Homo sapiens: one gene and its partners. The protein of the gene in region 2 purifies or fractionates together with the protein of the main gene of each other region. This does not show direct contact. Each region holds a gene or a part of one and is shown on either strand. Other genes may lie near its edges. The genes, in order: CENPF, POLH and FRYL.

The links.
Region 1: the proteins of POLH (region 2) and CENPF purify together in Homo sapiens (affinity purification with mass spectrometry; one large-scale study listed by BioGRID and IntAct). This does not show direct contact.
Region 3: the proteins of POLH (region 2) and FRYL purify together in Homo sapiens (affinity purification with mass spectrometry; one large-scale study listed by BioGRID and IntAct). This does not show direct contact.

Annotation. Positions count from the first base shown.
Region 1 is NC_000001.11:214,644,626-214,648,278, reverse strand, and holds part of CENPF (centromere protein F), read right to left. Parts: coding exon 879-3,653; intron 1-878. UniProt on the Homo sapiens protein: Required for kinetochore function and chromosome segregation in mitosis. Required for kinetochore localization of dynein, LIS1, NDE1 and NDEL1.
Region 2 is NC_000006.12:43,614,045-43,617,616, reverse strand, and holds part of POLH (DNA polymerase eta), read right to left. Parts: coding exon 3,060-3,572; 3' UTR 1-3,059. UniProt on the Homo sapiens protein: DNA polymerase specifically involved in the DNA repair by translesion synthesis (TLS). Due to low processivity on both damaged and normal DNA, cooperates with the heterotetrameric (REV3L, REV7, POLD2 and POLD3) POLZ complex for complete bypass of DNA lesions.
Region 3 is NC_000004.12:48,500,734-48,504,386, forward strand, and holds part of FRYL (protein furry homolog-like), read right to left. Parts: intron 2,113-3,653; coding exon 2,095-2,112; intron 1,001-2,094; coding exon 890-1,000; intron 1-889. UniProt on the Homo sapiens protein: Plays a key role in maintaining the integrity of polarized cell extensions during morphogenesis, regulates the actin cytoskeleton and plays a key role in patterning sensory neuron dendritic fields by promoting avoidance between homologous dendrites as well as by limiting dendritic branching.

The DNA of each region.
Region 1 (3,653 bases), on a different chromosome or scaffold from region 2:
ATTACTGAAAAACAGTTAAAAAGCTATTGTTTGCATTTGTCCCTTGAAGTGAAACAGCTTGCTATGGTTTGTCTCATCATCTCTATACTGACTGCCATCTCTTGCAAGGTATCCAAAACCCCAAAATTCTTAGAAAATACAGGGTGGAGATGAATTTTGTGGATAGTCCTTTTATTCTTTAATATTTGTTCAGCAAGAATTAAGTGTGACAAAATCACTTTCCTAGATCACTAAGTAAGCTCACTGGGCCAAAACTTAATTTTTCTTTAATAATTGAGCCTCTTGATGGCAGATCTTCCCTTTAATCATCAACTAATACAATAGAAGACTGCACAAAGAGAAGGTATAAGAGGGACTGAAAGCACGAAATCCCCAAAACACACCCTAGAAGCCATGAGTGCTCTGTTGGTTACAAATCTATCAGTATCTTTAAAAGTGCTTTGTCCTGAAGGCAAAAAAGACACAGTAAGGCAGGCAGATCCTTTCCGATCCTAGATAATGTCTGTTATACTCTCTATAGCAGTGAGTCTCAACTGGATATGGGGAGGCCACTATTCTGATGTACTCTAAGAAAAGGAAATATAACTAGAACAAGGAACTGTGCATAAACCAAAGCTTTGCCCTTATGTAGGTGCCACATTAAAAACCTGGTCCAATCCATGAACATGTCCCAAAGAATCAGCCAGAATAGTGACTACTGCCAGAGCCAACTCAGTGTTTCTGCAATTCAAGACCCAGTAAACATAAAGCCTTTACAAAGTTTGGTCCAATATAGCAGACACGGTCTAGAAGTAAATACAATTCACAGTGTCTAGAAGAAAATATGGTTTCCTGCCTCATGACTACATATTTAAACATAAACAGATATAGCCACTTACTTTTTCAACAAAGGACATTTTGTCCATTTTTGTCAATTCAAGCTCATTCTCTAGATTCTTGTAAGAACTCTGCAGCACTTCTAATGTGTCCTGCAAAGAGGCATTTTTGGATTGTAGCACTTGGATCTTCTGCTCCAATTCCACTGTCAGATTTCTCAGTTCTAAGTTTTGCTCCTTCCAAAGTTGGTGCTCTCCTTCCACCTGGGACAGTTTAGAGACAAGCTGCTCTTGGTCTTGAATTTGATTTTTCAGTCTACTGATTTCTTCATCCTTCTTCTCCAGTTTCTGCTTGCCATCTTCTACTTCTTGAATGAGGCCATTCACTGAAGATTGCAAAACAATATAATTATTTTTGGCCTCATCAAGGCCTTGTAGCAACTGAGCCTTCTCAAGTTCAAGACACTCTACTTGACTACTAAGATTCTGCTCTTTGGCCTTACAGGCTTCTTGGTCATTATGCAGGGCTGCCACTCTCTCATTGAGCTCTTTTAATTGTGTTTGAAGCATCTCCATGGCAGTGCTTGATTTTTCTTTCATCTGTACTTTCTCTTGCTCTTTTTCTTGCAAAATATTTTCAAATGATGAATTTATTATTTCTAATTCAGATATTCGCTCTTGCTCTTTTTGTAATTCATTTGTCAGATTTTCTTTTTCTGACCTTATAGTAACAACATCTAATTCCAGACCTCTCAGACTTTGGGTCATCCCTTCTATTTTTGCTTTTAGGGTCTCTACCTCTCCTTTGGAATTCTCTGCCTCAAGAGCTGCATGCTCTTGGTTTGTCCTGGCTATCTCTAGCTCTCTTTCAAGGTTCTCCACTCTACCCTTAAGTAAATCTGCATGATGCTCACTTTCCTTCAGTTGTTGTAAGACACAGAGCTGCTTCTTTTCATCAGCTTCTAGGCGGGCTCTCAGCTTTTCAATGCTATTTCTCAGCTGATGCTCTTCCTCTATTGGTGGGTCTAGACTCTGTTCTGTGGCCTTCATAATTTCTTGGTCACCACACAAGGCTGCTACTGCCTCATTTAGCTCCTTTAACTGATTCTGAAGCATCTCCACTGCAGTTTTAGATTCTTCTTTGATCTGTATCTCTGCTTGCTCCTTTTCTTCTAACAGACTTTTAAATGAAGAGAGTAACTTGTCTAGTTCTGACAACTGACCTTGTTTTTCTTGTATTTGTTTTGTCAGATTTTCTTTTTCAGACCTTAACGTGACAAGGTCTAATTCAAAAACTTTCAGGCTTCTGGCCATCTCTTCTATTTGTGTTTTTAGAGTCTCTACTTCTGCTTTGGAATTCTCGGCATCAAGAATCACTAGCTCCTGGTTTTCTTCTGACATCTGCAATTCCCTTTCAAGGTTCTCAACTTTATCCTTAAGTGAATCATTCTCCCGCTCGCGTTCTTTCAGTTTCTCTGCGATGTGCAGCTGCTTCTTTTCATCGGCCTCAATGCGAACTCTCAGTTTCTCGATGCCTCTTCTCAGCTGATGCACTTCCTCCTGTGTTGAGCTCAGCCTCAATGCGAACTCACCTTTCTCCACCAGTGCGGCCTCCAAGGCCTTGGAGACATTCAGCTTTTCATAATCTGATTCACTCAGTCTGGCCTGCAGGCTTTCAGATTCCTTGACAAGCAATTCTTTCTCTTTATTCAGTTGTGCAATTTGGTTTTCCAGCTCACATTTTGTCAAAGACAGTGCCTGTGAGTCCTTTTCCAAACTCTGCAGCTTTTCCTGGAGATGAGTTTTGTCTTTTAACAGCTCACTCACATCAGAGGACAAAGTCTGAAGGAGTTCCGTCTTTTCCTTCACCTCTGCCTCTGCCACCTGAATGCAATGGAGACACTCACTTTGATGAGACTCAAGCTCTTGTGTTTTCTCCTTCATTTTTTCAGACAACTGATCCAGTGCCGTGGTTTTTTTTGACATAGTATCTAATTCTCCACGAAGCTGGTTTCTCTCACTTGTGACCACTGAGAGTTCTTCTTCAAGGCAGACAATAACCTTCTGCTTATTTTCATTGTCTTTTTCTAAACATAGCTTCTCTGTTTGAACTACCTCTAAGTCAGCCTCCAGGTAGAGGGCTTCATGCTCAATGCTAGCTTTCTCCGATCTGATCCTACTCAGCTCATTTTCCACATCAAGAAATCTCTCCTTCCAGCTGTCATTCACCTTGGCCACATTATCTCCAATATCTTCACGTGATGATTTATCTGCATGCATTTCTAAATCAGAATTGAGGCCTTCAGAAGTTTCTACTCTCTGGAGTAACTCCTGGTGATCACAAGAAAAATATTCCAATTTTTCACTTAAATCTGAGTTTTCTTTCTTAAGTTCCCCAACTATTTTTTCCAATTCTATGCATGCTTCAATTTTGGTCATTAGTTGTACCTCCTGTAAATGGAGTTTTGAGTCTAATTCTTTCATTTCATTTAGCAAACTTTCAACTTTTCTGTCACGGTCCTCTATCACATGAAGTAATCTCAAATTCTCATTTGATGTCTCTTTTACCCGCAGTTGAAGATTATGGATATCTTCCTGATTCCCCAGGAAATCCATAGGTACCAAAGCATTAGGACCAGAAAATGACAATTCAGAAATGCATTCTGAAGAGCCCTGGGTTTTATCTTCCCCTGGAGGCTCATAATTGGTATCTGGGGACTGTTCCCCAGAGCACTCTCCTGTGGGTTTCACTGCACCAGTCTCAGTTATTTTCTCAATGTCTAGATTGAGGTCCTGCTGAGCATCTTTATCACAAATCTGATGAACATCATGCTTTGG
Region 2 (3,572 bases):
GTCACTCTGTTGCCCAGACTGGAGTGCAGTGGCACAATCTCAGCTCACTACAACCTCTGCCTCCCAGATTCAAGTGATTCTCCTGCCTCAGCCTCCTAAGTAGCTGGGATTACACGCATGCGTCACCACACACACCTAATTTTTGTTATTTTTTGTAGAGATGGGTTTTCCCCATGTTGGCCAGCCTGGTCTCAAACTCCCAGCCTCAAGTGATCCGCCCACCTTGGCCTCCCAAAGTGTGGGATTACAGGCATGAGCCACCACACCTGACCCACATTGGGAAATCTTGTTAATATCAGATTACAATTAAGTGGGAATAGTGGTGAGGCTGAGACTATTTCTAATAAGTTCCCTGGTGATACTGAGGCTGCTGTTCCTCAAATCATACTTGGGAGTAGCAATGTTCTAGAGATGATCTAGTGGGTTTTTTTGAGACAGAGTTACTCTATCGCCCAGGCTGGAATGCAGTGGAAATCTCGGCTCACTGCAACCTCTGCCTCCCAGGTTCAAGTGATTCTCCTGCCTCAGCCTCCCAACTAGCTGGGATTACACGCACCCACCACCATGCCCGGCTAATTTTTGTATTTTTAGTAGATACAGGGTTTCGCCATGTTGGCCATGCTTGTCTTGAACTCCTGACTTCACGTGGTCCACCTGCCTTGGCCTCCCAAAGTGCTGGGATAACAGGCATAAACCACCACGCCTGGCAAGATTTGATTATGACTTATCAGATCTAAACAGAGTTCCTGAACTAGTCAAGTAGCAATCTAATTCTACATTAGAACAAAACGCAAGAGATAGGCCAATGGTTAGAACTGAGGGTATAATAGGGTTTACCTGTATGAAATTCACTGTTTATTAAGTCACTTTTATGTACAGAAAGACCTGCCCTAGTTACCATATCACTTTTAGGGTTTCAAGGCTTCATCTCACATTCTTCAGCTGAAAACAGGTAAATCTGGTGAAGGTATTATCTGAACTGCCCGTCACAGAGCTAGAGAGAAGTTTTTCTTTTGTTTTTTTTTTTTTTGAGACAGTCTCTCACTCTCACCCTGGCTGGAGTGCATTGGTGTGATCTCAACTCACTGCAACCTCCACCTTCCAGGTTCAAGCAATTCTCCTGCCTCAGTCTCCCGAGTACCTGGGATTACAGGCGCCTGCCACCAAGCCCAGCTAATTTTTTTTAGTAGAGACGGGGTTTTGCCACCTTGCCCAGGCTGGTCTCGAACTCCTGAGCTCCTGCAATCCACTCACCTCAGCCTCCCTAAATGCTGGGATTATAGGCATGAGGAACCGCACCCAGCCTAAAGAGAAGTTTTTCTTTTTTTTTTTTTTTTGAGACGGAGTCTCGCTCTGTCACCCAGGCTGGAGTGCAGTGGCGCGCTCTCGGCTCACTGCAAGCTCCGCCTCCCGGGTTCACACCATTCTCCTGCCTCAGCCTCCCGAGTAGCTGGGACTACAGGCGCCTGCCACCGCACCCGGCTAATTTTTTTTTGTATTTTTTAGTAGAGACGGGGTTTCACCGTGGTCTCGATCTCCTGACCTTGTGATCCGCCCGCCTCGGCCTCCCAAAGTGCTGGGATTGCAGGCGTGAGCCACTGCGCCCGGCCAAGAGAAGTTTTTCTTAAAATCCTTTTTTTGGGGGGGCCAGGATCGGTGGCTAACATCTGTAATCCCAGCAACTTTGGGAGGTCGAGGCAGGCGGATCATGAGGTCAAGCAATCGAGACCATCCTGGCCAACATGGTGAAACCTCATCTCTATTAAAAATACAAAAATTAGCTGAGTGTGGTAGCACGTGCCTGTAGTCCCAGCTACTTGGGAGGCTGAGGCAGGAGAATTGCTTGAACCCAGGAGACGGAGGTTGCGGTGAGCTGAGAACGCACCACTGCATTCTAGCCTGACGACAGAGGGAGACTCCGTCTCAAAAATAAAAAATAAAAATAAAAATAATCCCTTTTTTTTTTTTAACTATGCAAGTCTCATTACATTTAAAACCCTTTTTTAAACTTGGTCCCTTTTCTGTGCCAACTTTATGTTTGTTTTTGTTCTTGTTTTTGTTTGAGATGGAGTCTCGCTCTGTTGCCCAGGCTGGAGTGCGGTGGCGCGATCTCAGCTCACTCCAACCTCTGCCTCCTGGGTTCAAGTGATTCTCCTGCCTTAGCCTCCTGAGTAGCTGGGATTACAGGCGTGCACCACCACGCCTGGATAATTTTTTTTGTAATTTTAGTAGAGATGGGGTTTCACCATATTGGTCTGAAACTCCTGACCTCGTGATCTGCCCGCCTTGGCCTCCCAAAGTGCTGGCATTACAGGTATGAGCCACTGTGCCTGGCCCCTATTTTTTATTTTCTGAGATGAAGTCTCGCTCTGTTGCCCAGGCTGGAGCGCACTAGCATGATCTCAGCTCAATGCAACCTCCGCCTCCAAGGTTAAAGCAATTCTTCTGCCTCAGCCTCTAAGTAGCTGGGATCACAGGTGCCTGGAACGTGCCTGGCTAATTTTTCTATTTTTAGTAGAGATGGTTTTGCCATGTTGGCCAGGCTGGTCTCAAACTCCTGACCTCAGGTGATCTGTCTGCCTCGGCCTCCCAAAGTGTTAGGATTACAGGCGTGAGCCATTGTACCCGGCCGAGTTACATAATTTGAATACATTGTTATTAATCTGCAATAATCTGTAAGGTATTATCTCCATTTTACAGATGAGAATGTGAAGAAAATGACTTGTTCAAGGCCCTCATTGCAATAACCAGAGCTAAGTTTGCAACCACGTCTCTTAGACTCCAAGGCCCACACACTTTTTACTTTATGACACTGCCTCCCTAAATGCTAAAGATTAAAAACTCTGGTAGGATGAATTTTTACATCTCTGTCAGCAGTGGGATTAGAATCCATGCCTGTGAAGAGATGGGACCGTAACTCAGCACCTAAATGGATTATTTTTTGTATTAAAAATTTCATAATTCCCTTTCTCAGGGAAATCTGTAAAGATAAAATATTAAAGATAAAGATCTGTAAAGATAAAAAATATTAAATCCTACAGGCAAGCCTGAGGGCAGCACTAATGTGTTAATGGCTTAAAAAATGATTCCAATGTTTGCATGCCCTCAGGCCTGGGGCGTTTATTAGTGCAGGCCAAAGGGCTCTTGGGATTTCTTTTGCCTTGATGAGATACGGCAGAAACAACCTGGGGGTTTGAAGAGTGGGGCTGCAAAAAGGATTTCTGCAACTCCAATGCAAAATGATAGTCCATGTGTTCTGGCATATCCCATACCGGTACCAGGGAGCCACACTTCTCACAGGGCACTTGGTCCTCAGCAGCTAGAAGACTTGGATTTGGGGTTGCTTTCTGAGTCACCTCCAGCACAGATTTGGAAGCTGAAGAGGCGTGCATGCTTTGGCTGTTGTGGGCCAAATCCATCTCTGCAGGAGTTGCTTTAGAGGATTCTTCTAGCTTCGACACCCCTTCACAAACAGGGACACACCCTGGATACTCTGTTGGTAAAGAGTTTGGTAATGCTTTACAGTTGGACCATGGGTTTTGTTGGGGGGAAGAAACTGAAGAATTATTAAG
Region 3 (3,653 bases), on a different chromosome or scaffold from region 2:
ATTTTCAACATTCAAAGTGTTTTTTAACATGTTTTTTCTTGTGTGCACTAATAAAACTGTAACAATGTGGGCTGGGCACGGTGGCTTATGCCTGTAATCCCAGCACTTTGGCAGGCCAAGGCAGTGGGTCACCTGAGGTCAGGAGTTTGAGACCAGCCTGGCCAACATGGTGAAACCCCGTCTCTACTAAAAATACAAAAAGGTTAGCTGGGTGTGGTGGTGCACACTGGTAGTCCCAGCTGCTTGGGAGGCTGAGGCAGGAGAACTGCTTGAACCCAGGAGGTGGAAGTTGCAGTGAGTTGAGATCATGCCATTGCACCGCAGCCTGGGCAAAAGAAGGAGACTCTGCCTCAAAAAAAAAAAAAAAAAAAAAAAGCTATAGAAATACGAACAACATGTTGAGGGAGGGGGGTTGATGATACAGTTTTATGTCTTTATTGAACTGATGTGCTTTGTTTGACTATTTTGATTTTCTGAGACAGGGTCTTGCTCTGTCACCTATGCTGGAGTGCAGTGCTGCAATCACAGCTCACTACAGCTTCTAACTCCTGGGCTCAAGTCATCATCCCAGCTCAGACTCTCGAGTAACTAGGACTATAGGTATGTGCCACCATCCCTGGCTTTTACTTGACTTTTGATTATAGATGATCTGTGTCTACTATGGAAACCTTTAAGGTCTTGAACCTTTTACAACTGCTGGATATCTGCTGTCTTATTTACTCATAGGTCCTGACATAGCACATCATTAAAAAACAAATTATTCCTTAACTAAAAGAAAAAAGACTCACTCTAAGTGACTTTTGACTTAAGCTATTTTAACAAGTAATAGATTTTATTTTAAAATTTTTTTAGAATCAGTTACTGATGCCTAATACAACTGAATATTTACCTCTGCTTCATTTTTTATCGTATTTACTTGGTTGATAAGTTTACAGTAGGCCTGGAACAGAAGCAGCAATTGAAAATGCAATTTGTATAATCTTCGGCAGAGCTCCAATTCCTAGAAATAAATAACATTACATTAAATTTAGGTGTTATTTTCTAGACAGCATATTTCCAATGGAAATTTATAGTTAAAATTGTCTTGTCGTTTATTTTTCTGCAGTAAGGAAGTTAATATGGTATGAAGCTGATGAAAGGCACGTGAAATATGCTTTAAAGACTAAGATTAAAATAAAAACAAATATCACTGCTGGTTACATAATTCAGTTTTAATGTTAAGCACATTTTCACATTCTACAAATAGACTGTTTCAGCAGGCAATTAATAGGATACTTTAAAAAGGATTCATTAGAATTTAAAACTTTAAATTCATAATTAAAATAATCTACAAATGCAAAGACTTTTGCCCTCATTGAGATGTAGATCTCACTGCATTTATCAACAAATGCTTGATAAAGCAAAGTGAAACCGGATAACCTCTTACCTAAAAAGTAAGAAAAGCTGTCTTTTAAAGTGAGGTCATTTTTCTAAAGAAAACCACTTGGTAATCTCATTGAAATGAAACTATGAAATTAACAACGTGGGCCGAGCACGGTGGCTCACACCTGTAATCCTAGCACTTTGGGAGGCCGAGGTGGGCAGATCACTTGAGCTCAGGAGTTTGAAACCAGCCTGGCCAATGTGGTGAAACCCCGTCTCTACTAAAAATACAAAAAATAATTAGCTGGGCATGGTGGTGGGTGTATGTAATCCCAGCTACTGGGGAAGCTGAGGCAGGAGAATCGCTTGAACCTGGGAGGCAGAGGTTGCAGTGAGCCGAGATCATGCCACTGCCCTCCAAGCCTGGGCAACAGAGCAAGACTCCATCTCAAAAAAAAAAAAAAAAGTTGTGCACTTTGATTTTTTAAATTAAGAAATTTAAGAGGAGATATGTTTAAGAAAAAGGTGACTGCTAATTTTATGTATTTTAACATCTCACTATTTTAAAAGAACCAACATTTCATGGATTAGGGCTTTGCAAAACTGAAGCACATACTACTTGTAAAGTAGTCCACGAGAAAACATTGCTGGGTCACAAATGGACAAATGGCAGATGAAAACCAGTTTGTCTGGCAAGGGTGAGTAGTCTATAAATCAAGACAGGTCACTTACTGCTAGTATTTCCATTTGCTAAGCAAGAAGGTGATCAGGTCACAAAAAATACAAAGGAAGAAAAAGACCAAGAATTAGTGTAAGAAATCATTTTAACTAGGGTCACAGATGTTCCAGGTAAACTGAAGAACATATATTTATACCCCAAAGAAAATTATACAAAGTTATTTCCAGAATAAAACTTTTTAGACATTTACTGCAACGATTCAGGGTGTTTTTAAACACTTTGCCAAATAATAAATTACATTTAGGCTATGACTTATTTCTGTGTAAAAGCTACAATGAATAAAACTGAACTATTGTGATCTTGGTAAATCTGGCTATCCAGGTTTAAAAAAAAAAAAACCAAAACCCAACTGTAATAAAACTTCCATTTGTAAACTGGAAAACTTATGATTAGAAAATAAGAAACAAATTAATTACTGTTACTTCTCAGAAAAGAATTGGCTTATAATCGTACATAATAAATACTTATCCATCACCATCAAAAGATTATCTCTAGGGTGGCTCATTCCAGGCTTCCTATCCTTTACTGTCTAATTAGGTCCTACTTTGCCATAACTGGTGCTGAGCCACAGGGTGGAATATCAAAAGCAGATGCATGTTCTAAATTGCATTCCAAATATACTTCAGTAAGTTTCAGAAACTTAACCCGACTAGGTTTGAATCAACATAATGTATGTAAAACACAGAGTAAAAATTTATGAACCATCTTAAAAACTATATGAAAACATGTACAGCAACTTGGATCTGGTCTCTTACGAGGAGAATGACTTCTAACTAAAACAACAATTGTTACACCGTAAATGTATCTTCTAAAAGTCATTCTTAAGCCTGCTTTTCTAAATAGTTTCCTGTGAAGGACTGTTTTTCATAAAGTTTATTCCTATCAATTTAGAAGGGATTTGCTAAATAAGCAAAGGTGAACTTTAGCTCCATGCTGCTTACCATAAATTATGTGGATGCTCATCCAATAAACATCAGTTGAGCACAATCCAAGGTCAAGCATATTCCATATCTAAATTTCTGAGGGTTTAGTTCATACAGTTTATTTCATATGGAAATTAACAATTTGAATTTTAAATACCTTTCCTCACTTCTATTAGCACAAATAAAGTAGAACTGATTCTACAAGCATATATGTATAGCCTCTACTTTGGGATGTAATGGAACATAAACTGCTGATAAAGTTTATGATCGTAGGAAATAACACAAATGTAATGAATTTTACAGCTCTGAATTACCAGCAATTACTCTAAATATGCTAAAACAGTGCAGTTTTTGTGGATGAGTGTGTGTGTGTGTATATATATGCACATTTTAAAGTATATTAAAATTTGCACATTCTTTTATTCATCTAACAAATATTTGACTGCTTATTATGCAAAAGACAAGACTGGTACACAAGGACAGATCAAATTGCATAAAAAGCGTCTTCCACCCTCAAAACAGTTGAATATGAAAGGTGAGCTGAAATATAAATGAAAGTGTTAAATGTTCAGTTTCCACTTCGTAGAAAACCTCAAGCTATGTTAACTGACTTGATCTTAAGATGGATA